Linked DNA regions of Homo sapiens: region 1 is linked to region 2. The links come from fine-mapping of genetic effects on gene expression. Tissue or cell type: pancreas. Region 2 holds a variant in brackets; the other region holds the start of a gene. All regions are shown on one strand. Distances are between the middles of the regions.

Region 1 (2,762 bases), 46 kb after region 2:
TTCATCTACATGAATGTCCTGTAGAACATTTGAAAGTCACATACAGTTCTTCATTTTCCTGTACATGTTGCAGGGGGTCAGGATGTCTAGCATCCCTGACCCACATCCCTCAATGCCAGGACAGTGTCATCATGACAACCAAAAATGTCTCCTTATTTCCAGAATATTCTCTAAAGGGGAGTATCACCTTTGTGACACAAGAAGAAGAGAAAATAAAAGATGTAATCGATGGCTATCTTTTGGTGCGGGATCAGCCCCACCCTACTCCCTATCAGAACTCCTCCTGCCTGGAGGAAGATAACTGGGGACTAAGTCACAGGGGACTACACAGCAGGCAAGGTCAAGCAATTTCCTAACTGGTTAAAGCCGCAGTCTTAACACTGCCCTTAAGCTTCATATGGTAAAAGGCTCCTTTGTTGGTTTGAACTTCAGAGGCCTCAAGATACTCCAAGCTTGGTGAAATTTGGCCTCTGTGGTCATGCCTGTCTCTGGATTTTTCTGTGTTTTATGTGTTCCCACCAGTCACAATGGTAAGCCCTATAATTCACAAGTTTTGGGTAGAATAATTCGAAGGGTATTGCCTCAGTAGTGGGGAAAAATTCAGTCCTAAAGGCTAATCTAGTCCAGCCTAACAAATATTAAAAACAAACCCGAAAGACTCAAACTGTTTCCTGCATCCCAGTACAAAGCTCAAGAGTATTTATAGGAATGCAAAAACATCCAGTACCCAACAAGGTAAAATTCGACGTCTGGGATCCAATCAAGCCCCTGGCCAAGGGAAGGAAGCAGAAATGAAGAGGGAGAAACAATGCTCTATCTTGTACATTTTATGAATGTTATAATCGCCTCCTCTCCCATCGTAAGACTATTATTACCTTTTTGTTTATACACCCAAGCATTGTTTGGCTTATCACAATAAGCATGCATTATCATCGTTATTTTAAAAAGGCTTTGTGAACAAACCAATCAAGAAAATGGGAATATCAAACAAAAAGGAGACAAAAGAAGTTCCTACAGCACATCAAAACTGACTGAAGGTCTCTTTCTCCCTATTTCCTTTGCCTTTTTTTTTTCCTCTGGCTGCCTCCCTCTCTAGAAAGTTCTCACTTTCTTTACCTTCATGTCTTGCGTTTCTTAAACTTTCTGGATTTTTCAGCTGAACACCGAATGCAACTGCACCATGGCCAGTTGTTACAGGAGACTTTGTTTCTTGTTTTTTATTTTTAAATGGGCAGATCTTAATGTTTCACATTTACTTCTCAAAGAAAGAGAACACCAACTCCGCCTCTCTGGTGTTCAGCTGCCTTTTATCTGGTCCTCTCCTCCACTCCTTGAGTCAATGGCCGGGCAGTTAAGTCTCCACCAGACCCAGTCTGTTTGCCCAGAATCCACCTGCCCTGTCCCTAGACAGGAAAACTGCAACTTAGGCAGCATCTGCCTGCACTGAAAACATGTCCCACCTCTTCTTTTTTCCCTCTGGAGAAAGCTCTTTCTGGCATCGAGTGGGGACAGCTAAGGTCTCCAGGCTGCTGATGAAGTGAGGGAAAGTGGAGGAGAGTCGGCGCCGAGATGGGCGGATAAAAGGAGCGACCGCTCAGCAGCGAGAGGGAGAGGCGAGAGTAAGGCGCCCAGACACCATGTGGACAAGGGGAGGAGAGAAATCAGAGGTGGCGCGCGAAGGCTGAGCGCCCAGGCAGCCAGAGCCCAGATCGGAAGAGCCGAGTCCGGGCAGAGGGGTCCGCGGGCTCTGGAGGTGCTGGACGGGTGCGATCCGAGAGCAGACCGGGGCCCTCGCGAGCCTCTCCCGGCCCCTGCCCGCGATGAGCGAGGCCAGCCGACTGTGCTCCGGCTACTACAGCCTCAACCAGAGCTTCGTGGAGCCCTTCCAGTGCCCCCGGCGCGGCGAGGGGGCAGCGCTCCAGTATTGCTGCGGCTTCGCCGACCTCAAGTACTGCTGCAGCGAGCCGGGCAGCTACTTCCCCTACAAGCACAGCTACATGTGGAGCCTCAGGTGGGCTGAGAGCCCGCGCGTGCGGCGGCTGGCCGAGCCCGGGGCTAGGGAGGCGACAAGCGGAGCCACGCCAGGGCCAGGGAGGTTCCCCCGCGTCCCCGCTATCCGCCCTAGGTTAGGTCCCTACGGAAGGACGCGGAGCCTCTGAGGGCGGGTGAGGGCAGGGAGAGAAATCTCGCCCCGGCTCGGAGCTCCCCCGGGAGCCAGGACAGGAGGCGAGGCGCACGCTGGAGGAGCGCGGGCTTTGCGCCCAGGGCGCACTTGGGGCCCGCCTGGCTGGCCCCGCTGAGTTCCCCGCCCGCCTCCCGGGAGCCGACTGCTCTCCCCTCGCCGGGACCAGTCCCAGGCTGATAGCCCTACTGGTGGAGCGCGAGGACAGGAAGATAACCCAAGGGGAAGGTTTAAAATCCTCTTTTTGGTTTATCTGGTGTATTTGAAGAGAAAGGAGGCTCCTATGGGGCTCTTCTTACTGCATTAACAAGGACCAGAGTATTTTAAGACTCTTTGAGGGGTGTGAAGGAATTGGCTGTGTTCTTTAAAATACATGTATATTTTTAAAAGTGTGTGTGTGTGTGTGTGTGTGTGTGTTCCTGAGGGCCTGTGCAAGCAACTGGGCTTTACGACTTGCACTTTTTGGAGGATCTGACCCCTACCCTGGAGAGAATTGAAGCGACACCAAGAAAGGTACAGCTTTTGGTTGCTATGATTATACACACACTCTGTAGAACAGGACACCCCCTTTCTTGAAACC
Region 2 (2,762 bases):
GGGAGTTAGGATTTCAACAGGAAATTTAGAGTGACACAAACATTCAGCCCATAACATCTGTGTATGTTTCATCATCCTACCTAAACCCACATCTCTGTACACAGTCCTTTCTTTACATTTTTTCTATTTCCTTTTGATTCTTATTATTAATTTTTGTTCTACTTTCTGCTCAAACCTTGACAGATGCAACATCTACCTAATGTCTTTAATCAACCAAATTCAATACATCTTTAAGGGACACGGCATTGTGCAAAGTAATGTGGAATTATGATATGATACACTCTTGCCCTTTAGTTGTTCAGTCCAGTAAGGAAAACGGGAAGAAATACAAATAATTATATATTCATCATACTTATACTCATCAAAGAGAAATGAAAAATATTAAAATAGGATGACTGGTAAACTCACGAAGGGCAGACAGTCTTTAAATTAGCTTTTTTCCCCATTTTTTTACTAAAGGAAGTTTTCAAAGGAAAGTGAATGAGAATATATCTGCCTTACCCTCTGTCATAATTGGGTTAGAATAATTACCTTAATAAACATAGTTCTGGACCTGGGACTCATTCCACAGCTATATCTTGAAATATATGTATTTCAAGATGTTTGATAGTTGATATGTGCCAATAAGATGTATAGCAGAGTCCTAGATCCTTTAGTATTAATGAATGCCTAAATGTTATCTTAAAAAGCAGGAAATACCAGACATTCAAGAATTTACAGACTTAGAGACATCCCAGGATAGAGGGAAAGGAAAAAACTTTCCTGACTCTATTCTTTTTTTGTCTACCCTCGTTAGCTTTGTCATGTGAGAGGTTATGGTATTTTGGCAGGAGAAGAGTGGAATTTGTAAACCAAGATTTTTTAAAATTATATGGTAGGCAGTGAAGACTTACCAGTTAAGAGCATGGATTTTGGAGCCAGGCCAACTGCTTGGGTTCAAATCTTGACTCTGCTACTTCTTTAAGCAAGCTGTTTAGCATCTCTCTGCCTCAGCTATGCCATCTGTACAATGAGGATAATAGCAGTCCTTATTTCATAGGATCACAAAGAAAATTAGATGAATTAAGGTGAACAGAGAACTTGCATATAGTACATGCTATTTTAGTATTAGCTATTGTATTTTTGGCACTTATAAAATCATTATGAAAACCTTTCTCTGAATTACATTTGGCCTGGCATGTGGGTTGACTTCCTTAGGATAAAGAATTCCGGCCGGGCGCAGTGGCTCACACCTGTAATCTCAGCACTTTGG[G/A]AGGCCGAGGCGGGCGGATCGCGAAGTCAGGAAATCGAGACCATCCTGGCTAACATGGTGAAACCTCGTCTCTACTAAAAATACAAAAAATTAGCCAGGCGTAGTGGCGGGCGCCTGTAGTCCCAGCTACTCGTGAGGCTGAGGCAGGAGAATGGTGTGAACCCAGGAGGCGGAGCTTGCTGTGAGCCGAGATCGCGCCACTGCACTCCAGCCTGGGTGACAGAGCGAGACTCCGTCTCAAAAAAACAAAAAGAATTCCATGTGGCCAGTCTCTTGAAATTCTGCCAAATGTCTCTGTCTTAATTTATATTTCCCGAGATGAGTCCTGATTGGATATAACACTATGAAACATAGCAAAATTTAATATTAACTTATAAGCTCTTTAAATAATAACTTATACAGAGCTCAAAGAAGGAAGAGATTGTGCTGATTTGGAAAAGGTTAGTAGATGCTTCATGAAGGTGAATATTTGAGATCAGACATTTAAAAATCAATAGGACTGAGGGAGGAAGAAAAAGTACATCTCTGTCCTCTTAGGAAAACATTTTTAGTTACCAGATTGTGCTTGTCTTTTGTTTATAACAGGGTACACTTTCCAAAAGCACTTAATCTTCCCAAGGCCAACACTAATAGGCTCTAATGTTGTCTATTCTGGAAAAAAAAAAAAAAAAAAAGAAAGAAAGAAAGCCAAATAAAGGTTATATAACCATGTTACAAATTTTAATGCTTTGTGTGCCATTTTGCCAGAATTTTATTAAAGACTGTAAGGTCACAATAGTTAGTACCAACTTGAGTGTGTGTGTGTGTGTGTGTGTGTTTGTGGAATACACATGTCAGCCCTTCTCTCCCTGCTTCTAAGTGGTATTCTTCTAGTTTATTTGGGGGAAAGGAGGGTTTGGCTCTTGCCTGTCCTGAGTTAGTTTCACACCACAGCTGCTTCTCTCTGCCTCTGTTAGCAACCCCGTGGGCCATCATTCACTTTACTGCTAGCTGCTACCAGGACACAAGGCCTGCTGCTCCCTTGAAGGGATGTTGCTAACCCCTGTGGGTGTCAGCAAAGGAGTGAGTATGGGACTGGTGTTTTTACTACCCTGACTCTTAATTTCCCCCATTCCCACCCCACTAGGATGTTCTGCCAAATTAAGTTTATACTGAACCATCTAGAGTCAGAGGGAGTTTTCTTCGTAACAACACAACTCAAAATGAGTATTAGATGTCTTTGGTCTTAAGTGTCTTCTGGACATCACACCACTGGAAATTCTTGTCCCTCTATCTTATTGCCAGACTTCCCTCTCCTTCTCCTCCCCAAACCCTCTAATCTTCCTGATTAACCCCAGTATAAAATCTTTGTTTATTATTATGCAGATCAGTATATCCATCTTTTGTTTCATCATCCTCTTTAAGCACATGGCCTTAGGGTCTCTCTTTCAACTCTCAAGCAACTCAGCAAGGTATTTCCCTAAACAAAAACATTTTCCTCCCTAAGACAACTCCAGTGCCAGGTGCTCAA

Which allele goes with the higher level. Positions count from the first base shown, and alleles are read on the strand shown. Sizes are in standard deviations (SD) of each study's normalised expression.
For the expression in pancreas of the gene that starts at base 1,700 in region 1, allele A in region 2 goes with a higher level than allele G (small effect, 0.36 SD a copy in GTEx).

What was found. PIP is the estimated chance that this variant, and not a neighbour inherited with it, causes the effect.
Region 1: SHISAL2B starts here. The variant in region 2 is fine-mapped to the expression of SHISAL2B in pancreas (GTEx, PIP 0.95).

The regions. Positions count from the first base shown.
Region 1 is chr5:64,688,804-64,691,565 of GRCh38, forward strand. SHISAL2B (shisa like 2B) reads left to right here and starts at 1,700. Exons shown (of 3, transcript NM_001164442.2): 1 at 1,700-2,011. The coding sequence starts at 1,821. RefSeq lists enhancers at 111-612, 119-413, 1,671-2,171 and a silencer at 119-413.
Region 2 is chr5:64,643,183-64,645,944 of GRCh38, forward strand. No RefSeq gene overlaps it. Among named protein-coding and RNA genes, the nearest start is that of SHISAL2B, 46 kb to the right of the region's middle. The variant G/A (reference allele first, on the strand shown) is at 1,253.